Homo sapiens: one gene and its partners. The protein of the gene in region 4 interacts with the protein of the main gene of each other region in a biochemical or structural test. Each region holds a gene or a part of one and is shown on either strand. Other genes may lie near its edges.

Evidence for each region.
Region 1: the proteins of CLTC (region 4) and TMEM94 interact in a surface display test, tested with the Homo sapiens proteins (one large-scale study listed by IntAct).
Region 2: the proteins of CLTC (region 4) and HIP1R form a complex in vitro, tested with the Homo sapiens proteins (one study listed by BioGRID).
Region 3: the proteins of CLTC (region 4) and ERG form a complex in vitro, tested with the Homo sapiens proteins (one large-scale study listed by BioGRID).
Region 5: the proteins of CLTC (region 4) and EHD1 form a complex in vitro, tested with the Homo sapiens proteins (one study listed by BioGRID).
Region 6: the proteins of CLTC (region 4) and TOM1L1 form a complex in vitro, tested with the Homo sapiens proteins (2 studies listed by BioGRID and IntAct).
Region 7: the proteins of CLTC (region 4) and PICALM form a complex in vitro, tested with the Homo sapiens proteins (one study listed by BioGRID).

The regions. Positions count from the first base shown.
Region 1 is NC_000017.11:75,459,635-75,463,134, reverse strand, and holds part of TMEM94 (transmembrane protein 94), read right to left. Parts: intron 1-3,500. UniProt on the Homo sapiens protein: Could function in the uptake of Mg(2+) from the cytosol into the endoplasmic reticulum and regulate intracellular Mg(2+) homeostasis.
Region 2 is NC_000012.12:122,841,957-122,845,456, reverse strand, and holds part of HIP1R (huntingtin-interacting protein 1-related protein), read right to left. Parts: intron 1-3,500. UniProt on the Homo sapiens protein: Component of clathrin-coated pits and vesicles, that may link the endocytic machinery to the actin cytoskeleton. Binds 3-phosphoinositides (via ENTH domain).
Region 3 is NC_000021.9:38,488,478-38,491,977, forward strand, and holds part of ERG (transcriptional regulator ERG), read right to left. Parts: intron 1-3,500. UniProt on the Homo sapiens protein: Transcriptional regulator. May participate in transcriptional regulation through the recruitment of SETDB1 histone methyltransferase and subsequent modification of local chromatin structure.
Region 4 is NC_000017.11:59,622,895-59,626,394, reverse strand, and holds part of CLTC (clathrin heavy chain 1), read right to left. Parts: intron 1-3,500. UniProt on the Homo sapiens protein: Clathrin is the major protein of the polyhedral coat of coated pits and vesicles. Two different adapter protein complexes link the clathrin lattice either to the plasma membrane or to the trans-Golgi network.
Region 5 is NC_000011.10:64,872,122-64,875,621, forward strand, and holds part of EHD1 (EH domain-containing protein 1), read right to left. Parts: intron 2,398-3,500; coding exon 2,300-2,397; intron 1-2,299. UniProt on the Homo sapiens protein: ATP- and membrane-binding protein that controls membrane reorganization/tubulation upon ATP hydrolysis. In vitro causes vesiculation of endocytic membranes. Acts in early endocytic membrane fusion and membrane trafficking of recycling endosomes.
Region 6 is NC_000017.11:54,949,352-54,952,851, forward strand, and holds part of TOM1L1 (TOM1-like protein 1), read left to right. Parts: intron 1-166; coding exon 167-272; intron 273-693; coding exon 694-775; intron 776-2,550; exon of another isoform or gene 2,551-3,500. UniProt on the Homo sapiens protein: Probable adapter protein involved in signaling pathways. Interacts with the SH2 and SH3 domains of various signaling proteins when it is phosphorylated. May promote FYN activation, possibly by disrupting intramolecular SH3-dependent interactions.
Region 7 is NC_000011.10:85,975,085-85,978,584, forward strand, and holds part of PICALM (phosphatidylinositol-binding clathrin assembly protein), read right to left. Parts: intron 3,010-3,500; coding exon of another isoform or gene 2,986-3,009; intron 1,599-2,985; coding exon 1,539-1,598; intron 1-1,538. UniProt on the Homo sapiens protein: Cytoplasmic adapter protein that plays a critical role in clathrin-mediated endocytosis which is important in processes such as internalization of cell receptors, synaptic transmission or removal of apoptotic cells.

The DNA of each region.
Region 1 (3,500 bases), about 16 Mb from region 4:
TATACACGTATATATATACATATATATACACACATATATATGTGTGTGTGTGTGTATATATATATATATATATATATATATATATATATATATATATTTTTTTTTTTTTTTTTTTTTTTTTTTTTTACTTTTTTTATTTTTGGAGACATGTCCTCATTCTGTTGCCCAGGCTGGAGTGCAGTGGCATGATCATGGCTAACTGCAACTGCAGTCTCAAACTCCTGGGCTCAAACAATCTTTCCACTTCAGCCACCCGAGTAGCTGGGACCACAGACACATGCCACCATGACCAGCTTTTTTTTTTTTTGTAGACACAAGGTCTTGCTATGTTGCCCAGACTGGTCTAGAACTCTGGGGCTCAAGCAAATCCTCCCACCTCAGCCTCCCAAAGTGCCGGAATTACAGATATGAGCCACTGAGTCAAGCCTAGAACTGTATATTTTTAATTTTTTTTAATAGAGATGGGGTCTCACTTATGTTGACCAGGCTGGTCTCGAACTCCTGGCCTCAAGCGATTTTCCCATCTTGGCCTCCCAAAGTGCTGGGATTACAGGTGTCAGCCACCATGCCCAGCCTTAGAACTGTATATTTTTAAAAATGGAATAGGCTGCCCTGTGAAGCAATGAGCTCCCATCACTAGAGGGAACCAAGCAGAAGCTGAGAAATTATGGAGATAATTAATACATGAGGTGGAGGGTAGGAAGACAATTCTAACCCTGAGAGAATGTGAAACCAAAAATCCAATAGCTTCTCCATATGCAAAGATGCTCAACTCTGCTTATAAAAGACATTCAGGCCAGGCGCAGTGGCTCACGCCTGTAATCCCAGCACTTTGGGAGGTCGAGGCTGACAGATCACGAGGTAAAGAGATCGAGACCGGCAGATCACGAGGTCAAGAGATCGAGACCATCCTGGCCAACATGATGAAACCCTGTCTCTACTAAAAATACAAAAAAATTAGCTGAGAGTGCTGGTGGGCGCCTGTAGTCCCAGCTACTTGGGAGACTGAGGCAGGAGAATCACTTGAACCCAGGAGGCAGAGGTTGCAGTGAGCCGAGATCGTGCCACTGCACTCCAGCCTGGGCAACAGAGCAAGAAGACTCTGCCTCAAAAAAAAAAAAAACAAAACAAAACAAAACAAAAAAAACTGTAAAATTTATATAGGAGATAGGAAAAAATCTTTGTGACTTTGGGTTACATTTCTTTTCTTTTTTTTTTTTTGAGACGGAGTCTTGCTCTGTCGTCCATGCTGGAGTGCAGTGGCACGATCTCGACTCACTGTAAGCTCCGCCTCCCGGGTTCGCGCCATTCTCCTGCCTCAGCCTCCCGAGTAGCTGGGACTGCAGGCGCCCGCCACCACGCCCAGCTAATTTTTAGTAGAGACGGGGTTTCACCATGTTAGCCAGGATGGTCTCGATCTCCTGACTTCGTGATCCGCCCACCTCGGCCTCCCAAAATGCTGGGATTACAGGCGTGAGCCACTGCGCCCGGCCTACTGTGGATTACATTTCTTAGATTCAGTACCAAAAGCATAATCCACAAAAGGAAAAATTAATAAATTGGAACTGAGTGGCTAGGGAATGGTTGGGAGCAGGAAGAATTTTTACTATATATACTTTTTAAAAAAATTCTTTTTTATACTTTTTTCTGCCCTTGAATACATATACTTTTGTGCCTTTTGATTTTCAAACCATGTGAATGTATCCAATATGTCTTTAAAAGATCAGCAACTTCAGGCTGGACACGGTGGCTCATGCCTGTAATCCCAGCACTTTGGGAGGCCGAAGCAGGCGGATCATCTGGGGTCAGGAGTTCGACATCAGCATGGCCAACATGGCGAAACCCCGGCTCTACTAAAAATACAAAAATTAGCCGGGCACGGTAGTGTGCACCTATATTCCCAGCTACTCCGGAGGCTGAGGCAGGAGAATTGCTTGAACTCGGGAGGCGGAGATTGCAGTAAGTTGAGACCACACCACTGCACTCCAGCCTTGGGCAATAGAGCAAAACTCTGTCTCAAAAAAAAAAAAAAAAAAAAAAAGCCAATCGCAAAAGGACAAATGTTGTATGATTCCTCTTATATGAGGTTTCTAGAATAGTCAAAATCACAGAGACAGAAAGTAGAAAGATGGTTGCCGGGGGTGGGAGCAGGGGGGAAATGGGGAGTTAAATGTTTAATGGTGACAGAGTTTCAGTTTGGGAAACTAAGAAAGTTCTGGAGATGGATAGTGATGAGGGTTGCACAACAATGCAAATGTACTTAATGCCACAGAACTGGTTACAATGGAAAATGTTATACTATGTATTTTTTTCCTTAATTTTAAAAATCGGCAACTTCTGGCCACCTGTAATTCCAGCACTTTGGGAGGCCGAGGCAGGCAGATCCCTTGAGCACAGGAGTTTGAGACCAGCCTGGGCAACAGGGCAAGAACCGTCTCTGTAAAAAATACAAAAATTAGCCAGGTGTGGTGGCATGTGCCTGTGGTCCCAGCTACTCAGGGGGTAAGGTGGAAGGATCACCTGAGCCCAGAAGATCAAGGCTGCCGTAAGCCGTAATCACACCACTGCACTCCAACATGGGCTACAGAGCAAGTTCTGTCTCAAAAAAAAAAAAAAAAATCAGCAGCTCCTGATTCTGATTTTGCAATAGGCTCTGCCTTATAGCTAAGCAACATTCCCTACTTGGCTTTCACGTCAACATAATGAAGGTTTACGCTCTTTCAGTACACCTGAGTCTTTGTCCAGCATACATCTTTTTTAAGTGTTTCCCAGTATTTTTCTATTCACCTCCCTACCAAGCAAGACTGGTACCATGAACCCCTTTTTCAAGAAGCCCTTGAAGTTATGAAAATTGGGTTCATTTAATTATAGTACACTAAAATTTATGGTTCCTCAAATACCACTCTAAGCCTTTCAAGGTTCTTCTCTCTGACACCCCTCACCCCTCTCCCATCACTTCTGGCCTTGGGAGCTAGAGAAACCCAAAGCAAGCAGTGTGTGGTTTGCTCCTCCTTACGCAGGCCATCAGTGTCTAAATCTGGCCCTTAACCTACTTGTCATGCCATGTGACCCATACTGTTTACTACCGTCTCAGTGGCCACAGGCAAAGCTTATTATTACACAAACCCCTGATCACCAAACCACACATTCTGGCTGGCGGGTCTGCTCGGAAGAAAAGCATTCCTGTTTCAGCCATGGCCTACCCTCTAGTTCACCTGTGCTGCTATAAACAAACCCAGGCCTGCTTGGAAACGGGCTTTAAACAATATTTTTAAATCCTATCATTTGGGTAAAGAAAGACACCATCGTAAAAACAACACTAACACAATAGTAAGATAAGAAATATTGACACATATTTACCAACCAGTGCCACGCCTGACCCAGAACCTTCTCACTTGAACACCAGGAATGGACTTAAAGGCTTTATGGCGTTCAGGCTTAGACTGCTAAGGTACGAGTTCAACCTGATTCATCAGATTAAGCTAAATACATACAGCCTT
Region 2 (3,500 bases), on a different chromosome or scaffold from region 4:
GGCAGGGGACAGGATCCGTGGCAGCAGGGCCCTCCCGGGCAGGGTGCCGGCTGGCTCTGGGAACACAGCCCCGTTGTGTCTAGGATGGGCAGATGTGTGCACCAGGCTCAGAGCGCCACACAAGGAGGCACAGTGCTCGCACAGTGGGAGTCTGTGGCTGCTCCGTGGGCCTCGCCTCTGACCAGGCAGTAGCAGCTAAGCCCTGTCCCGGGAGAAGCCCGCCAGGTCCCAGTGATGTCCCACCTACTCCCGTCTGCTGCTGACCCTCCCTTGCGGAAGTGGCTCCAGGGTTCTGAGGGCCGCAGCAGCAGGCACTCGGGCTCACTCTGTGGTGAGACCCACACGGTGTCCTTGACGCAGCTCCGCTCTGAGGCTTACAGTCCCGAGGCAGGTCCAACTGCCAGCAATACTTGGTTCTGGGTCCTGAGGTTCTCAACATGCTGTCCTCACAGCTGCCGAGTGGGGTGAACGTAGTTCTCCCCATTTTGAAGGTGGGGAAACTGCAGCGTGCCATGGGAGGTAGAGGGCTGCCCAGGCCTGTCCCTGGGTTCTCTAGCCTGCATTTGTGCCCCATGTGGCCCCTCGGGCAGAACAACCCCAGCAGCTCTGACACAGGCCAGAGGCTGGCTGGTCAGCTGCCAGAGACACCCCTTCAGGGCAGCGCAGCCTTTGAGGAGTGGAAGGGATTGATTATGGACCTCAGCTCAGGGTGGAAAAACCCAGTGCTAGAGAAAGGAAGATCATAAGGACACATGTGACCGCCCCGGGGTCTGTCCGCTACTCAGCACCCACAGCTCCCATCCAGCTCCCAAGAGGCAGGGGCCTCACACACAGCCTGGCAGGGCAGTTTCCACACAGCTGTGAGTGGCTGTGGGACCAGGGCTCTGCAGGGGATGCAGTGATAATGTGCAGCATGAGAGCATGAGGAGGAGGATGCTGTTCTTCCCACTGCTGGGCACAACAGGGAGGGGTGTCTGGCTGGGTCAGGGGAGGTCTCTGGAGGAAGCAGGACAGAAGTGATAATGGAGGGGGACCAGGCACAGTGGCGCACGCCTATAATCCCAGCACTTTGGGAGGCTGAGGTGGGAGATCACTTGAGCCCAGGAGTTCAAGGCCAGCCTAGCAAGACCCCATCTCTACCAAAAATAATTTAAAACTTAGCCGGGTGTAGTGGTGCACGGCTGTAGTCCCCTGCTACTTAGAAGGCTGAGAATGGCTTGGGTCCAGGAGTTCCAGGCTGCAGTGAGCCATGATAGCACCACTGCACTGCAGCCTGGGTAACAGAGTGAGAACCTGCCTCTAAAAAGTAAAAATAATAGGCCAGGTGTGGTGGCTCATGCCTGTAATCCCAGCACTTTGGGAGACCGAGGCAGGTGGATCACTTGAGGTCAGGAGTTTGAGACCAGCCTGGCCAACATGGCGAAACTCCCACTAAAAATACAAAAATTAGCCGGGCATGGTGGTGTGTGCCTGTAATCCCAGTTACTCAGGAAGCTGAGGCAGAGAATCGCTTGAACCTGGGAGGCTGCAGTGACCAAGATCATGCCACTGCACTCCAGCCTGGGCAACAGAGCTAAACTCCATCTCAAACAAAACAAAACAATAATAGAGAGTTCCACAGCGCCGTGAGACACCTTGCAGAAGGGAGTTGGAGGGTCCGCAGAGACAGCAGAGAGGGGCAGAAGCAGAGTGAGGTCAGCTCCTGCCTGGTTCCACAGACCCTGCAGCTTTTCGGGTCTCGAAAAATCCTCGGAGTCCACACCCACGCCCCAGGGGCCACCTGCTCACAACTCTCTGAGCCTGCTCTTATCCTGCCCAGTGCTGGCAGCAGGAGGGGCCTGACCTTTAAGGACAGAGAGTGGGGACAAAGCTCAGGGGCACCCAGGGGCCCAGGGGGCAGGTGAGGCTCTGCAGATACACTCAGGATAGCTGGCATCGCCAAGTGTGTAAGAACATACTCTATGCCATAAGGCCAGCAGACAGGTCTCAATAACCTATTAATAAATTCAATTTTATTGAGCTCAGCCTTGTACTGGGCCCCCGAGCAGACAGCATTGTTCCAGTGTTGCCTCATTAATGTTCACAAGGAACCTCGGAGCAGGTGGGCAAGGGAGGACATTGAGGCTGCAGGTTAACCACCTGTCCAAGGTCATAAATAACAAAAAGATGTGGGCCAGACATGGACCAGAGATGGAGATGGAGCCCCTCAGGCCCCTCCCAGGCGGCCCTGGGCTGCATGGCCTTCACAGTTCAGGGTGCGGGCTAGGCCTGGGTGTGGGAGAAGTGTGTCAGCATAGACATCCTTATCGTCCCACCACAGGAGCCCCACTCCCCAAGGGCCTGCTAACATGCCTCCAAATTGCGAGTGGGCTCCGGATCAGGATTTGTTCAAATCTCAAGTTAACGAAGGCCTTGGGGCTGGCAGAGCCAAGGGCCCTTCCCACTACCCCCATCCCTTGGGGCGAGGGCATCTGCCTCTGGGCTGCGGCCTTCAGCTCAGTCCAGTGGCCAGGGGGAGCCCAAGCCCTCAGGATACACCTGCCCTGCTTCCAGGAACAATCAGGCCAGACAGAGCCCGCTGACTCGTGAGCAGCCCAGAGCTGCACTGGTCCCTGGACTGAGACTCATGGGGCACACCCCAGCGAGCATCTCAGTGAGTGCTGCCTCAGAAGAGGGGAGATCAGGGTGAGGCAGGGGACGCTCCCGAGAGGCTGCTGGCCCAGGCCTGATGTGGAGTCCAGATGGAAACAGACCGCAGGAATGGGCACTGTCAGCAAAGCCAGGCAACTGAGCTGGGAGGCTCCAGGCAGCGGCTGCCCCACACGCCAACCCCGCGGCACCCTGTGGCCCAGGAGGCTCCGGAGTTGTCTGTCCACCGATCATACTCTGTCCCCACCTCCAACCCCCGAATACAGGGACATCTTCCTTCCTGCTGTATCTCTAGGCCCAAACCAACATCTGGCTGTCAGCAAATCCCCACTGGGCAAATGGAAGGGTGAACACTCGAAGGACAAGAGCTCTTTCAAAGACAAGTACTGGACGACTTCAGGGCACTGAGTCTCTCCTTCTCCAGCTAATAATTTATCCACTAGAGCTGCAGAGTAAAAGTAATTATAAAACAATTTCTATTTTTAAAATCAACGCTGAAATGAATCAGACGTAAGCCTCCCTGTGCTGTATTATCGTGGCACCTAACAGCAGCACTTGGCAGGGACAAGAACGTTCTTCAAAGAGCTGGGGCACACGGACGGACGCTGGCAGAGCGGTAGGTTATTTTGCTTTAACATTTCCAAAGAGTTGGTTGAAGGACAGAGAGATCTCATTCAAATGCGTCTGTCCCCTCAAAGGCCATTGACAGAGCAAACACAGGGTTTCTGTAGCTGAGGAGGCCGGGATATGGCCACACGCAAAGCAGCGAGGCGGACAGCTGGGTCAGCTCCAGCAGACAGGAAGTCAGGGGCAACTGCTCCGCTCCATTTAACCTGTATCTCCCCTCACTC
Region 3 (3,500 bases), on a different chromosome or scaffold from region 4:
CATCCTGTAGATGGCTAATTGATGATGCCCTATTGTTTAGTGTGTGTGCACTGTGGTTTTATTTGCTTCGGTTCAAAGGGCCTAAACAATGCATTCGTTGGAATTTAGTAACTGCTGTAAAATCAGCACAGAGAACAATCTGTGAGCTGATATTTTTTGTACCCAAATCTGGTAATCTCTGCTTGACTAAAGAAAGCAAAATCTAAAATGACCTTTCAACTAACCATAGAAAAGGCCTTCCATTGAATCTCAAAGAGACTTATTTTTCTACCAAATATAAAAACATTCGAATTATGCATCATTTTCCATGATTCAAAGGAGACAGAGGTGCCTACGGGGCATGTTACTCATAGACAAGTCTATTCTAGTCTAATCACGTCCCCTTAAAAATCACCGAGTAGATGACACCGAGGATGAGAACGAGGTACTGTAATCATTACTTTAGAAACTTTATATTTTTACCTGTTTCAAGACAGAATTCTCCTAGAAAATCTGGAGCAACAAGCTTATTCCCCTTGGAGAGGAGATAACGAATAATGGACCACGCATTCGGAGAGAGGAAGTTTCCACTGGGAGCCCTTCCTGCATCAGTGCGTCTCTGGTTGGGCTGGCTATCTGTGTAGGAAGTGAACGCAGGAAGTATCTGTCTACAAACCCTTTATCCTCAAGGTAATTGCTGTAGCAGCATTTTACTGTTTACCAAAGCAGTAAACATGTGATCTAAAAAAAGATGTTTTCCATCTCCAGAAGAACAAGGCTTTAAAAAATGTATACATGTGCTTATTTTGTAACCAGCTTATCAAAATTGGTTACAATAGGCTTGGGCTTTCAACAGTGAGTCCATGAAAACAGCTCTTGGGATGGACAGAGGTACCCTCACAGGGATGCACAAGAAACAAAGAAGTGGCTTCCTTCACTAGAATGCTATCCTAGCAACACACATTTTATGTCTTTTCTCCTAAGACCGGCTTAACCGAGTTCATACTGTTTGGCTTACAAAGAAGGTAAAGTCAACAAAACTATCTATGTTAATTCAGGTTGGTAGAATGAGTAATTCACAAAGTCCAATAACTCATAAAAGTCACTTACATTTGGCCTTGGACAATATTCTTATTTTTACGTGACTATAAATATGCTTCCAGTTTAGGAGTTCACACAAGACAAAGTGAAAAGTTAGAACTCAAAAGGAGATGTGTAGTGGCTGCTTTTGCTGACTTTTGCCTGGCGTAGGCCAAGCCTCCTGGTCCGTCTTTTCCTTTGTTTCTTTATTCCAGATCAAGCTTGCAAACCTGCACCGTCCCAGATTTCCTGGGGTAAGAGAAGTGATTGTCTAGGAGAGGCAGCTTGGAATGAATAAAAACAGGTCCAGGAAGGATCCCTCAGCATTTAAGAGGCTCAGGAGGGGTCCCCCTCATCATCCTTGTTGTCTTTTGTGTTTTTCAAGCCGCCTTCCAGGTGGATAGCGATTGCAATGAGAGAGAAAGAGTATGGAAGGAGAATAAGAAGAATAGGGAGACACAGAAGTTAACAACGCCCTGAATGTCTCCTTCCAGGACCTGCTGTGCAGTGTCCGGTGAACTCACCAGCAAGCATTTCCCAGCCCTGTTTTAAGCAATCTCCAATGCAGATCAGGTGCTCGTGAATAATTGGGAGCTCACTGTGTCTGTCAGAGTTCTTACTTTATAATGAAGAGATAAAAACATGTTCATCACAGGAAAATGGACAAATTGGCTAATTGAAAACAAAATTCAATTCACAAACTGTTGTAGAAATTGAAAAAAAAAAGGTAGGGGGAAATGCTTTTCATAGATTCCCTGATTTTAGTCTTAGAAGAAAAATGTATTTGGCTTGAATGAATAGTAAAATTAACTAACTTTGATTGAGGAGCTTATGTGTGCCATATACAGTTCTGGGCTCTTGCGACTTGGTGAATCTCACTATAACCCTGTGAAGTAGGAACTATCACTCTACCCATTTCACCGATGGAAAAGCCTATCTCCTGTGAGGCTGTGGCTTGCCAAAGGTGAAATGGCCAGGAAGTAGAACAGCCAGGGAGTGAACCCCAAAAGCCAGGTGGGAGCCCATTTCCCCTGCCCACTGCACGAGACCCCTCCCCGGTTTGAAGATCCGATAGGGGCACTGCTGTTAGCTCCCCCTGCGTCCTGGCAGCAGCACAGTCAGCAGATGGTCACTGTGGAGAAGGCGGAGCTGACCACCTCCATTTTCCTATAAGGGAGCTAGGGCCAGGAGAGGTGCGTTCACCTGGGGAAGTCCTGCAGCATCAAACTAAAGCTCCGGGCCACCCTCTCCCAGATGGGCCTCTTTCCACTTCCCCTTGCCAGCAGCTATATCTATGCCTCCCATCCGTTGCACGGAAGATAAGGCCAATCCCTTTTCCACAGAGGCTATTTTAAGGATGCCACGAAGAAATACAGAGTACCAAGTGCCTCCCTGGGCCAAAGATAAAAGTGGGCTGTGCTCTCTGGATTCAACCTTCATGTTTTTGATGCTCTCTGGAAGGTCAGGGAAGGCACACATATCGTATGGATCCAAAGAGGACTACGCAATGCAAAACCACATACTTTTTTTTTCTTTTTAACTTGGAGCAATGTCTTGGGACATCTACCTCAAATTGAGACACAAACTAATTGTGTTGACAGATTCTAAAGTGTTGTTTCAACAGTTTCTTCTTCCTCAAAGGTGAGCATCATGTGCACACTGTCAAAATTAAAAAAAAAAAAAAAAAGACCCAATAAAACCCGATGAAACCCAAAGAGCATGGAGATGAGAAACTCACTGCTGGCTGACGATCTGAATGAATGGCCTTGGGGGGAATGTGAATGTGGAGGTAGCAGAAGGGTCCTGTCTTCAGTGCTGATTCTGTATCAATACTTGGTAAATTTAAAAAACAAAAAAACCAGCAAGGGAGATTTTAAATCATCAAGGCAGAAGGATTTAAAAAGTGGAATGTGTTAAATGCAAGAGTGCGGGATCTTTGCATAAAGTTATTATATTTTCAAAAATTCGACAAGCATTGTTTTTACCAAACGTGTTTAAAGTAACAGCCCTGAGGTTAATGTTATGATTGGATTCTGATGTGGCACTTTAAAAATAAATCATTTTGCTTGGCCTTAGCATTTCTTTTCAAAATGTCTCTGTACTTATCTGTGTACAACAGCAGATTACCGTTCTTCCCAGAGTTTAATTCCATGAACACCCTGCTGAAAGACTTGTTAAGGCCTTATGGAAAACTCTGACCTGCGTGTTCATTATTGACGCCCAAGACGAGTGCAAGGAAGTTGATACTTGGGATGAGGAAATTTAAATCAGCAGCTGATCTGGAATCTGGAAGCACTGCCCCTTGGATCTCGCCAAATATGGAAAGAATTCTTGTCACTGAGCAAATATAGAATTCAGTGCTAGAGTTTTACCTCTTGAATTTTCTAGAACTTTGTTTTGATTAGCCACCTAGAGTATAAGAATTGCTGCCTATGGGATTT
Region 4 (3,500 bases):
TGAGACTCGTGGAACATAATAAAAGATTTATTTAAAAGTTTCTTTTTGGGGGGCAGTTTCAGAGTGTAATCAACTTTGTATCATATCAATATTTGTATTAAACTGTGCACAATATCAAATGTTCGAACACATAAAAGATCCACAATCAAGTAGACAACATCAATGGTTGGAATAACAAGTGTACAGCCTTTGCCAACTCATCAATGGAAGCATGAATGCAAGGTGTAGTCCATCTTGTTTACCACCTTGTCCCTAGAGTCTAACACAGTTCCTCATCTGCAGTAAGTACTCAAATCTTAGGTAAATGTGTTAACCCCAAATACTTATACACCATAAAACACTGGATCTGTAAATGAATATTGTGTCATTGGTTGAGATACCTGAATAAAATGTACTGGACAAAAATTATTTAGCCAATAATTAATGCTCCTAAAATGCTACGTAAAGTACTTTCACATACATGATCTCAGATCCTCATAATAACTTTGTGAGATAAGTATGCCCATTTCCCAGAGAAAAAAAAGCAAGAGGTTAGACTTAACCTGTGTTGTCCAATATGGTAACCACAAGTCACAACCTACATACCATAATGAGCACTTGAAATGTGGTTACCGTAATTTTAAAGTAATTAAAATTAAATAATAACCAGTAAGTGATTCAATTACTGGAAAACTTAAGTATGTTTGGGATCACTGAAGTATTGCATATCTGCTTTCCTTTTTCTTCATTTTTGTTTGTTTAATATAGAGACGAGGTCTTAACTCTGTTACCCAGGCTGGTCTTGAATTCCTGGGCTCAAACAATGCTCCTACCTTGGCTCACAAAGTGCTGAGTTTACAGGCATGAGCCACTACCCCCAGCCCCAAATCTGCCTTTCTAACTGTAAATTTTATGAACTCTAAATACGGACCAGGATTTCCAAAGAAAATAGGGTCTGAATTGATATATGCTCTAAGTACAAAATATACATAGCCGGGCACGGTGGCTCACACCTGTAATCCTAACACTTCGGGAGGCCGAGGCAGGCATTTCACGAGGTCAAGAGATTGAGACCATCCTGACCAACATGGTGAAACCCCATCTTTACTAAAAATACCAAAAAATAAAAATAAAAAAAAAATAGCTGGGCGTGGTAGCACGCGCCTGTAGTCCCAGCGACTCGGGAGGCAGAGGCAGAAGAATCACTTGAACCTGGAAGGCGGAGGTTGCAATGAGCCGAGATCCACCATTGCACTCCAGCCTGGCGACAGAGTGAGACTTTGTCTCAAAAAAAAAGAAAAAAAAACCACACACACTAGATTTAGAAAATTTAGTATGAAAAAGAATGTAAGGTATCTCATTAGTAAATTTTATACTGATTACATATTGAAATAATATTTTGCATATCCCAAGTTAAATAAAATATATTAAATTTAATTTTATCTGGGCATGGCATGGTGACTCACGCCTGTAATCCCAGCACTTTGGGAGGCCAAGGCGAGCAGATCACTTGAGCCCAATAATTTGAGACCAGCCTGAGCAATATAGCAAGACTCTGTCTCTACCAAAAAAACCCAAAATTAATTAATTTTATGTTTTTTCACTTTTAATATGGCTGCTAGAAAACTTAAAAAATTATTTATATGAGGCCAGGAGCAGCAGCTCATGCCTATAATCCCAGCACTTTGGGAGGTCGAGGTGGGCAGATCATTTGAAGTCAGGAGTTGAAGACCAGCCTGGCCAACATGGTAAAACCCCATCTCTACTAAAAATGGAAAAATTAGCCAGGCATGGTGGCAGACACCTAAAATCCCAGCTACTTGGGAGGCTGAGGCAGGAGAATCACTTGAACCTGGCAGGTGGAGGTTGCTGTGAGCCGAGATCGCACCACTGCACACTAGTCTAGGTGACAGAGGACAGAGTGAGACTCTGTCTCAAAAAAAAAAAAAAAAAAAAAAAAAGTATGTGGCTCATATTATTTTTCTATTGGACAGCATTTGTTTCAACAACCCCTAAAGCCCTCCCTGTTCTGTCTACTATACCACATTGTTAATCTATAAACAAGTAGAGAGAACTCACCTCTCTGGGCCTAAGTCCAACAGACAAAAAGCACTCTAGGATACTGTATAACTTCTTTTTTTAAGGTCAATTATCCAATTTCTTTGAAATATTTTGTGTCAGAAGACTCAGGTACACATCCCATTCGGACAGCATTCCCACTACTTTATGAGTCTCACTTTTTAGAAAGGTGTCTGGGGGGATTGAGTGAAGATCTGAAAGTACCTAGCCAAATTTACAGCACATAATAAGGTCTCAAGAAGTCTGCTGCTAGTCATTGTTCATCACCACCACTTTCCAAGACAGACAGTATTCAGTTAAAACTTTTGAACAATGAGTGTTTTAATTTTAGCTAACGAAATATTCTAAATACATAAACATGAGTGGTGAGATAAATCTTCAAACTTACAAAACACATCAGCATGGCCTATAATTGTGCAGTCCAATGTAGGAGTCAATTGTCACATGTGGCTATTTACATTTAAATTAAAAAGAAATTAAAGCAAAAATTTAGTTTTTCAGTCACATCAGCCACATTTCAAGTGCTCAATATCCCTATGTAGCTGGTAGACAGTTCCATCATTGAAGAAAGTTCTACTGGACAATAACTCAAAGAGAAAAAGCCACAACGGTAACAATGACAGGGAAAACACCTTGTTAAATATAATTTGAATAACATATAAACATATGTATGGAAAAAACAATTTTGCAAAGAAGCTGAGGATTCGATATAAATGGAATCTTTTAAAAGCAAGGTACAAATTCCAATTATGGTCAGAAACAATTGTTCAAGAGCAACTACCATGGTTCCTGAAATGTGAATTTTCCTAAATACTCAAATGAAAATGATTGTGTTCTACATACACACCATTCTGTGTCTTATTTCCTAATCAGAGTGAAAGCACTTTCACTAAAATTAACCACACACTTTAAGCTGGGTAAACTGACCATCAAGAAAATTCTGAAGAATATGATACATTTTAAACTTAGAAGCTATTCCCAGGAGACTGCCGCATAATTCCAGGAAGTCTACCTCTTCCAGAGAGTACAACTAAGCATGTAGTAAATCCCAGTACTTAGCATTGCTTTCTATTCACAATCCGAACTAACTATAGCAAGAACCCCTAACATTTGACTCAACAACACATTCCATGCCTGCATCTATGGATCAAAGGGGAAAGAACAGGGTAGGGAGATTTTTAATTGAAGACCCAAAGAATCTAGGAATACAATGGAATGTGTCAAGTGGCCTAAAGATACTTAATGTGCCAGAAAATTGAAAATCACCAAAAAATTAAGAATCACAGGCAATATTTTATATATGTAGCCTAGGATTTTTATAGAATCTTCAATTCCAACAGTATCTTGCTCAAATAGGCACTCATTTATTAACTGCTATCAGTCTAAACAGTCTAGGAAAAGAGAAATCTTCATATATTCACATTCATTTGCTGTAGGTCCAA
Region 5 (3,500 bases), on a different chromosome or scaffold from region 4:
CCGAGCATGATGGCCCGCGCCTGTGGGCCCAGCTACTCGGGAGACTAAGGTGGAAGGATCACTTGAGCCCAGGAGTTCAAGGCTGTGATGATGCTTTGAGAGGCCGAAGCGGGCAGATCACCTGAGGTCAGGAGTTCAAGACCAGCCTGGCCAACATGGCGAAACCCCATATCTACTAAAAATATAAAAATTAGCCAGGCGTGGTGGCATGCACCTGTAATCCCAGCTACTCAGGAGGCTAAGGTGGGAGGATCGCTTGAACCAGGGAGGAGGAGGTTGTAGTGAACCGAGATCATGCCACTGCACTCCAGCCTGGGCGATAGAGCGACACTCTGTCTCAAAAAAATAAAAGAGTAACTTAATCAGATTTTCTGACCTTGCTTTGGCAAATGACAGGGCTTTTGCTTATCCGGCATTTACTAAAACTAGGTTGGAACAACAATAGCAGTAAGAAATAAAAATACTAGCCCTCGCTTTTTTTTTTTTTTAAAGGGGTCTCCAAATCTACTCCCTTAACTCCTAGGTGCATCACTGTCACCAGGGGTGGGAGAATCTAACAGCTTAACTGGCAGCTCTGAAACCAGATGAGGGCCAGTGATTTCAGTACGCTCTGATGCAGTCCCACACGGGCAAGGCCCGCAAGGCTGGAAGGAAAGAGAAGCAAGGTTTCTCAGCTCCAAGAACAGAGTCCCCATGCCCTCACAGCCCTAGCAGAGAGACATGTGCACCCCAAATCCTAGCTGCCGGCTTTGACTGCAAGGCTCACCCAGCAAAGGCCAGTCCAGAGGGTAAGGGACACGGGAAGGATCTGCAAGTTAATCATCAACAAACTTGCTCACTTGTCCTCAACCCCTCTTTGAGTTTGATCTTATTTCATTTTCACATTTGGAGCTGTAGACTCCACTCCTCACCTGCCAGGTACCAGCCTACCCTCAAGCTCCTCCCAGAAAGCATCAGGCCCCAAAGCGCCCCACCCGTCTGTGAAAAAGGGGCAGTGACAGATGGAGGACCCAGTTCAGGCTCATCCTGAACCAGATCTTCAAAAGAGCTTGGCAGAATCTAGGCAGGAGTTTACACAATTGGAATGGGCACGGTGCACTACTGCATAGCAAGAAGGCCTCAGCCAGGGAGGCTGCTGTCAACCTCTAAGCAAATGTAAGCAAATTTCCACCAGCCCGTTTCATGAATTTCTACCAGCTTCTCCTTTTGCTTGGCTCTCTCTCAGTCCTGCTGGACGTGTGAGGAATGTATATGGCTTTGGGGGGCAAAGGCTGTTAAACACAGACTAAAGCTAATAAGCTCTGGGGACCAGGGGCTTGTTCAGAGTCAGCAATGCTTCCTGCACCCTCACAGCATGGCCCGATTCTGATCCTGTTGTTTCCAGCATGCCCCAGGGGTTCAAAAGCATGACAGCCACATAAGATTGGCTGTGGTCTCACCATGGCTGCTCCCATTGCCTAGGCCCAGGGAGCCAAGAAAGAAAGCAGCTCCCGCCCTCTCAGTGCACAGAGCACTGTGGAGATGGGAGGCTGATGTAAAATGGGTTCTTACTCGGACACTTTTTTTTTTTTTTCTGAGACGGAGTCTCGCTGTCGCCCAGCCTGCAGTGCAGTGGCGCGATCTCGGCTCACTGCAAGCTCTACCTCCTGGGTTCACGCTATTCTCCTGCCTCAGCCTCCCGAGTAGCTGGGACTACAGGCGCCCACCAACACGCCCAGCTAATTTTTTCTATTTTTTAGTAGAGATGGGGTTTCACTGTGTTAGCCAGGATGGTCTCAATCTCCTGACCTCGTGATCCGCCCACCTCGGCCTCCCAAAGTGCTGGGATTACAAGTGTGAGCCACCGTGCCCGGCCACATTTTTTTTTTTAGAAAGGCTGAGACTGGAAGAAATCTCGAGGGCAGCCAGGTGTGGCGGCTCACGCCTGTAATCCCAGCACTTTGGGAGGCCAAGGCGGGCAGATCATGAGGTCAGGAGTTCGAGACCAGCCTGGCCAATATAGTGAAACCCCATCTCTACGAAAAATACAAAAATTAGCCGGGCGTGGTGGCACATGCCCGTAGTCCCAGCTACTCAGGAGGCTGAGGCAGGAGAATCGCTTGAACCCAGGAGGCAGAGGTTGCAGTGAGCTGAGATCGCGCCACTGCACTCCAGCCTGGGTGACAGAGTAAGACTCCGTCAAAAAAAAAAAAAAAAAAAAGGAGAAATCTCAAGGGCAGCATCTGAACCAAGTTGCAGATCTTAGAGAGAAGGATGTGTGACAACACCAGCAGCCCGAGCTGTGGTCACAGCTGTTTACCTCTGCTGATCCGCTGCTTCTCTCCAGACAGGATCCCGGGGGTGTCGATGATGCTGATGCTGTCCAGGACGGGGTTGGGCAGCTGGGCACACATGAACCTACATGAGAGCAAGAGCCAGAAGAGAGGCGTCAAGACACAGTCATCACTGCTCCGGACACAACAAAGGGCTCTCTGTACTCCTTCGCTCCATCTCTGGCTTCCTCTCCAGCAGCGGGGAACTGACAGGTGGTTTTCTATCGTCTTAGTTTCCCGGGGTGGCCGGCAAATCGTATGGACTTTCTCAACTGGGAATGCAACCAGCAGGCTCAAACTGACCCAAATCAGCACTTCCTCACACACTTTTCCCCTAGAGTTTGAGAGGTCAACTTTCAAGCTGCTGACTTGTTAGTGAAAACTGTGCAAGCCTAGGTCACCATTCAGTTCGGAGGGGAAGCAGAAGGTCACGCTGGGGCGCTGAAATCCCATCTCAGAATCCTCCAGCACTTGGCTAAATCTCCACACTGAAGAGAGCTGGCCGCTTCCTACTGCTGCTAGGGCCAGCCCTGCCCTTTCAACCAGCCGCTTGGGTGAGGGAATTGAAATGGACGGCTGGCAAAAGCTGGGGACCACACAGGCTGGTAGACGGTGGGACGGAGAAGCACAGACGCGCCATTCTCTGAAAGTCCGAGCAGGCTGAGGAAGAACAAAGCCGTGGAGAGGCTGGCGACTTGCGGGCCAGGGCTCAGCCACGCATATCTGAGTTTCACACTAAGCTTAGAACAGCCCAGAAAGGCAAGGGGCAGTCTCAGTTGAGAGCAGGGATCCTTCACTGGACGCAGAAAAAGCTCCTTTGAAAAGTTCTCTGAAAGGCCAGGCGTGGTGGCTCACGCCTGTAATCCTAGTACTTTGGGAGGCCAAGGCAGGCAGATCACTTGAGGTCAGGAGTTCACGACCAGCCTGGCCAACATGGTGAAACTCCATCTCTACCCAAAATAGAAAAATTAGCTGGGCATGGTGGCACGCGCCTGTAGTCCCAGCTACTCGGCAGGCTGAGGCAGGAGAATTGCTCGAACCCAGGAGGTGGAGCTTGCAGTGAGCCGAAATTGTGCGCCACTGCACTCCAGCCTGTGCAACAGAGCGAGACTCTGTCTCAAAAAAACAAACAAAAAACTTCTCTGAAAAAGGTAGTGAGAGCAAAGAAAAGACTGACCCATTATCTGT
Region 6 (3,500 bases), 4.7 Mb from region 4:
CGTAAGTGATTATTACCTAAAAAAACTAAAGTAATAATTAAAAACAACTTATTCTTGTCCAGTTCAAAGTTCTTGGAACAATGTACTTGCAAGTGTAGGAGTCTCAGTAATAAAAGAAAAGCTTAATGTAGAACGTTTATATGAACATGTGTTATGCTTTCTTCAGTTTCTGGAACATTCAAATTCAGTGTTTCTACAGCCAGTTAGTCTACAAACCATTGCAGCAGCACCATCAAACCAGAGTCTGCCACCTTTGCCCAGCAATCATCCAGGTACATGGGACCTTATTATTCGCATCAAATAAGGAAACTTATGAGAATATATGAGTCTGCCAGAGATTCATTGGTAACTGAAAATAGGAGAAATTAGAGATGCTCTTTTGTATTTTTAAGCTAATGAAACAAATTCAGGGCAGATACCATTATGACTGACTTATAAGAGACTGTAAAAATGCTTGTGTTAAACTGAGTATTGTGTTTTGAATGCTAAGGTAAATGAATCTTTAGTTGAGGTTTGGAAACCTTTTTGATACATACAGATTTGTTGAACTTGGGAGTAGCATTGGGACACCAGTCTGTTTTGGTTGTGTTTATTAGGATCTAATATTTGAAGTCTAAATTATAAAAAGAATATCAATTGCGTGTACTCCTCAAAAAGCACAATATGTTTACTGGTCTCTTTTTTTGCCCAAAGCGATGACAAAAAGTGATCTCCAGCCACCTAATTACTACGAGGTAATGGAGTTTGATCCCTTAGCTCCTGCTGTCACTACAGAGTAAGTCATTTACAAAATGATTAATTTATTTTTTGTCTTGGTTCCCTTTGATAGCAGAGCTAACAGGGCTTGGTTATACATTTAACTTTGTTTAGGTCTTGGCAGAAATTGATGGCCTTATTAAAAATGCCTTATGAGGTTTTATGGCAGCTGTTACTCTTAATGGTCTTATCGTTCCGGCCTTGTGACTAAAAAATAAAAATGCTGGGGTTGCATGTTAAGAAATAACTGGAACTAACCTGCTTAATGGACTCCTCATAGATCCCTTGGCAGAAAGTCATGTTCTCTTTAGCTTGAGAAGGGTACTAGTCACTGATTGGTGACATAAGTTTATGCCACATTGATGGAATATTTTAGCTGCTCTTTATGAACTGATCCAAAAAAATCTTATATTAGAACTTGTTTTTAGTCTTCTAAAGCATTAGTACAATTACTTTTTACTTAAAATCCTTAAAGCAACATTCTTTTATGATTTCATATTGGTCAAGATATATAAATATTAATGGAATGGTAAGGTCATAAGAACTTTAATATACTTTGAGTGACTGAAGGTTACCCCCAAATTGTTAAAAATTATTAAAGCACGTTTATTGGAAATCATTGTTCAGAAACTGACAGCCTACAGGCTCTATCTTGCTTGCAGTTGTTTGTTTTTGACCTGTGCAGAATTTAAAATGTGCATTTAAAAAATTAATTGCTGGTTTGGGAAACTCTCAACCATGTTTTTCCTCAGCTCTCACTCTAATATAACAATGAATGCAGAGACTTCTGTGGCCCCCAAATATGTGAGGATTTCTCCCCATCAGCAGGCAAGCAATGAATTCTACAATGGACACCAGCTGGGTGTCCTCTGATTCAATTCCAACACCATCTACCTGGAGATAGTGTCAGACCCCACAGGTTGAGAGCTCAGTCCCCACCACCCCGACACCTACCTTCCCAGACACCAGTCACAAGCCTGGGCCTCTAAACTTAGGACTGACTGGCTTCAAGTTGGGGTTCCCATGACTGCTTCTTTGGGTTTGATTAGTTTGCTGGAGCAGCTCACAGAACTCAGGGAAATACTTATATTTACTGGTTTATTATAAAGGACATTGCAAAGGATGCAGATGAAGAGATGCACAGGGCGAGGCATGCGGAAAAGGCCATGGAGTTTCCGTGCCCTCCCTGGAGTCCCACCCTCCAGGTACCTCCACGTGTTCAGCTATCCAGAAACTGACCTGACCCAACCCCAACCCAGTCCTCTAGGGTTTTTAATGGAAGCTTCTTGATGTCAGCATTCCTTCCCCCAGGGTATAGGGCAGGACCCTCTCTAGGGAGGCTCTTATGACCCACAGTGACAAAGGTGGGCGATTAGAGTGGTGCCTTGGGGCAGGTGAAAGGAGGACTAGAGAAGGTCGAGAGATTCTGCTTCCAGAGGCTGGCTCCTAAGGCCTGACACACCCAACATTATAACAAAAGACTGTAACAAGGGCTATGGGAGTTGTGAGCCAGGAACCTTAGACAAAAACCAGTATGTATCATAAGACCACAGTTGCCAACAGCTGAAAACTCGGATATTTGAAAATAAAAATTCTGGACTTCTAGATCATTTAGATACTCTGTCAACACGAAGCCTGAATTTTTACGTGCTAGCTATGGGCTGGGGTTGAGTAGTAGCTATCTCCTTTACACAGGTAGGCTCTGCAGCCCCTCAGGTCCTGTTACCACCCAAAAAACCCAGGGTTCATTCACCTGGATAGTAACAGATATCTGACTCTCCACAAGGACACAGGTTTTGATCAATAGGAATTTTATTACTTAGCACAAGTAAATTCTTTAGGGGCCAGGATCAGAAAGCGTTCTTCTGTAACTTCTTCATGTTGACCAGGGACACTGTATCCAGAGATGTTAGAGGAGTGAAAATCTCTAGGCACTAAAACTAAATATGTTTTAGGGTCTCCCAGGATAGGTTGCAAAGGCACCTACAGTTGAAATTTTTCTAATCTGGAAGATACAAATTTTACGAAGAGGTTAAAGATGCAGGGACCAAACAACAGTAGTAAGAGCAATAAAATTAGTGGCCTCATTAGGGGAAGAAACCAAGTAACACTTGGTATTGCTAATTTGAGAACTTCTCAAACAGAATTAGAAGTATGGCTATTAGGCCTGATGTGGTGGCTCACCCCTGTAATCCCAGCACTTTGCGAGGCCAAGGCGCGCAGATCACCCTGAATTCAAGATCAGCCTGGGCAACATGGTGAAACCCCGTCTCTACTAAAAATACAAAAATTAGGCAGGTGTGGTGGTGCGCACCTGTAGTCCCAGCTACTCAGGAAGGTGAGGCAGAAAAATCGCTAGAACCCAGGAGGTAGAGGTTGCAGTGAGCCCAGATCGTGCCCCACTGCATTCCAACCTGGGCAACAGAGCGAGACTGTCTCAAAAAAAAAAAAAAAAAAAAAATATGGCTGCTGATTAAAAGTGTGGAACCAAGAGGCTTGGGCATGGACCTTCCTAATGTTAACTTCCTATTTCCCCTGAGGTATTTATTCAGGTACAGCAAGAGGAATTAATAACTGCACACTCTCCTCCTCCCTGTTCTGCTAAGAGGCAGTCTAATGCTATACAATTATCTAGTACCGCATTAGCCAAGGAGTCATATGAGGCCCCAAGTCTGGAACTTCCCCAGGAACTAGGGCCAGCATGGCAGTGCCATGGGCTCAGAACACCTCTATTCTGTCCTGAT
Region 7 (3,500 bases), on a different chromosome or scaffold from region 4:
GTATTACAACAGATAAAATGATTAAGACTAAGAGTTTCCAAATTTATCAGGTTTAGACATCAAGAAAACTTAAGACTCTGTCTTCGCTGCTAAGAAATTTCAAAGTAAATTTGTATAACAAATCAAGTACTTTTGCCATTATGCAAGTGATCACAAGTGAAGACAGTTGATTCTCTGAATAAGCCTGCTCTAGTTCTTCCATTTTATTTCATATAAGAATCAAGAAAGAGCTTAAACTACAAACCAGAGGTTAACTCTTTCTTGAGTAACTGAAAATACAATCTCAACCAAATATGTTTCTTTAAAAATTACCACTACAGGGTATAAAATTAACCTAGTAAGTGACAATACCTAGTGTAAAAATAATGCACAAACAGAATACTGTTTTGGTTAAAATGCAATGCTCTAAAATCTTTCCTTTCAAGAAGTTCTATTTATTGTTTCAAGCAGACTACTATTTGCATTTAGAGCTTCATTTTAAGTTTATGGCCTGAGTTTCTCAGCAGACTTTTTTTTTTTTTTTTTTTTTTGAGATGGAGTCTTGCTCCGTTGCCCAGACTGGAGTGCAGTGGCATGATCTCAACTCACTGTGACCTCTGCCTCCTGGGTTCAAGCCATTCTCCTGCCTCAGCCTCCCAAGTAGCTGGAATTACAGGTGTGCGCCACCATACCCAGCTAATTTTTGTATTTTTAGTAGAGACGGAGTTTCACCATATTGGTCAGGCTGGTCTTGAACTCCCAACCTCAGGTGATCCACCCACCTTGGCCTCCCAAAGTGCTGGGATTACAGGCGTAAGCCACCACACCCAGCCTCAGCAGACATTTTAATGCAATGACTATGAAAAAAAGCTGTGAAACTTCTCCACATGTATAAAAGGAGTTACTTCCATATCATATACATAAAGAAGTAACATAGCAGGCACAGTAGCAATACCAAGGGACACGGTACTGCCTTCTACCAGGAACAGTTCCTCAAATACATACCAGTGGGTTGAAGCTACTAGCACCATTTCTTTTCTAATTGAGTCTCTATATACTGAGAGTTGGGAAACTAAGGGCAATCTAAAATGCACATTGTGGCATTTTGAAAGGTTAAAAGACTGTTTTTGTACTGTAATAATCATTGTCACAGGAAAATTTCTCTAGCCTTTATCAGACTAAATTTATCTCTATACAATTCAAGTGTTAATCCCTCCCATGCCCTACAATATCAGGTTATAAGACCTCACTGGTATTTAATATATGGTCACAGCAACAAAGGCTTAGAATTAACATTAATGTTTGAAATATAAAAGGCCCAGCAAAGTTACGAGGAGAAAAATAAACCAAGTAATACTATGAACATTAATGCATAAGATCTCTTGTATAATGATTATTCTAGACATACTTATGAAACCAATGCTATGGTTCTACTGCATTAGGCACTAGGGCTAGGAGTATGAGGAGCACTAAATTCTTTTTTAGGTTAAATTGTAATAAAAACATGTTATATATGAATCAATATTTTTTCCAAAAGCTGTACCTAGGAAAATACTTACAATTCCATATCCTATCATGCCTGTTGGTGTAGTAGCAGGATAGGCCATTACAGGGGGTGCCTAACATAGTGAAAGGAAAAATGAACAAGAAAGTATAACTCATGTGTGTCAACTGAGTTCAAGGAATTAGTAGCTGTAGTTCCACTAAAAAGAATTGCTAAGACAGCTGTGAGTAAGTGACACTTGTGATCATTAAGAACTGTCGATTAATGGTCAGTGAAAAAAAGTGTTTTGAAATTAGCAGAAAAGCAGACTTATTAGAAGGATAACTATACCACTTAAACTTAGATACAGCAGTGATCTAAGATTTCATCATGCTTTTTACAGCTTTAAAAATCTTTAGATTTAAAAAAGTATCTTAAATAGTTCTAAATAGTTCTAAAATTTAAAGCCTATCACTATCATTAAAAAATGTCTACCCAGAAAAAGTATTATTGAATGTTTTCTTACTTAGGTACCTGATTGCTTTAGCATTCAAAGAAAAAAATGTAAAGATCTCAAATCAATCAATAACCTGATCTTCCAAAAAGTTAGTTTCTAAGGATCTTACTCACTCTTTTCAAAAAACTCCAAAGGTTTCAAACTACTATTGAGTATGACTATTTCTATGAGCCATAGTTCTTATATAGAGTATGTACGTTAGCTTTCTAATTTATTCCAAAAATTATTTAAGAGGAACAATCAATTAGGTCAGTTTATGCTTTCATGTTTAAAAGAACCATCTATCACTATGATGTTTAAGTTCCCCTCTTCCTACTACTTTGATTATCTGTAAACATACAATTTGAGAACAGAATCATTTTAGATATAGTTGCTGTCTTAACAACATTTCCTGTGTGTGTTTCTCATAATGAAAACTGAAATTGAATAAAGGTGAAAGACCAATAACACTGCTAAAACATAAAATAACTGAAATTATATGGCAATTTGAACATATGCATGGAGAAATTAAATGAAATATAACTTTAAAAAAATAACACTAAAGTGAATAGTTATAAGTTTAGTATTCGGGTGAGCGTGTAGGACTTATTGGTCTCTCCCTACTTAAAACCAAGATCTGCAAGAGCAGTAGACAAACTGCCAAGAAGAGCAGAAGCCTGTAAGATTTCATGCAGTTGTTATTTTAAACATTACCACAATCAACATTTCCCTTCATTCAGAAGTCATCAAGTGCATAGTGGCAGCACAGATACACACACAGACACCCAGCCATCTGGCAGCAAATGGCGGAATATTAAGCAAGAAAAAAAATCGGTATTTCCCATGCCACCATCAGAATCAATTCTGCAACACACCCATGAAATCAGTAGATGCTAGGAAGAATTTCTGGCACATTGAAAATCTGAATGTGAAAACAAGTAATAGCTGAAAGGTTATGAGATTCTGCTACAGCAGTGGTTAATAGCATGCCAATTTATTGCAAAAAGGCTCGTTTTTGGTCACTTACGTATTGTGGAAAATGCATGCCATTCTGTTTTTCCCAGGGAGAACAATTACATAATGCAATAACACTGGATTAGAACAAGTACTTACACAACAGAAAATACACAGAGAGCATTTTAGTTCACATGTACATTCACTAACTACCTAAAATCCCTTGTATTTCCAGTATCTAATGAAAGAACATCTATACTAAAACACTATCAAGGTTGACAAGGGAATTGTAGTCTTTGGCCTCATCTCTTTATATAAAAAATAGTTTATTGATTACAAGTACCATTAAAACATCAATTCTATCAACAGTGTCAACAGTGCAAAATTTTGGGCATTGCATAAACAGGGTTGCATCAGATGTCTACCACAGAAAAAAAGCAAGCACTAATTAAAAGAATTTGTAGTATAATATATATTTTAATAAAATTCCAATGAATTTGTGTTAAATTTAAAAAACACTGAAAAACCTTGACAGTGTTTAAGGATTAATAAAAAGGTTAGAAATGTAAAGAAATGTCAAAAGCAGCA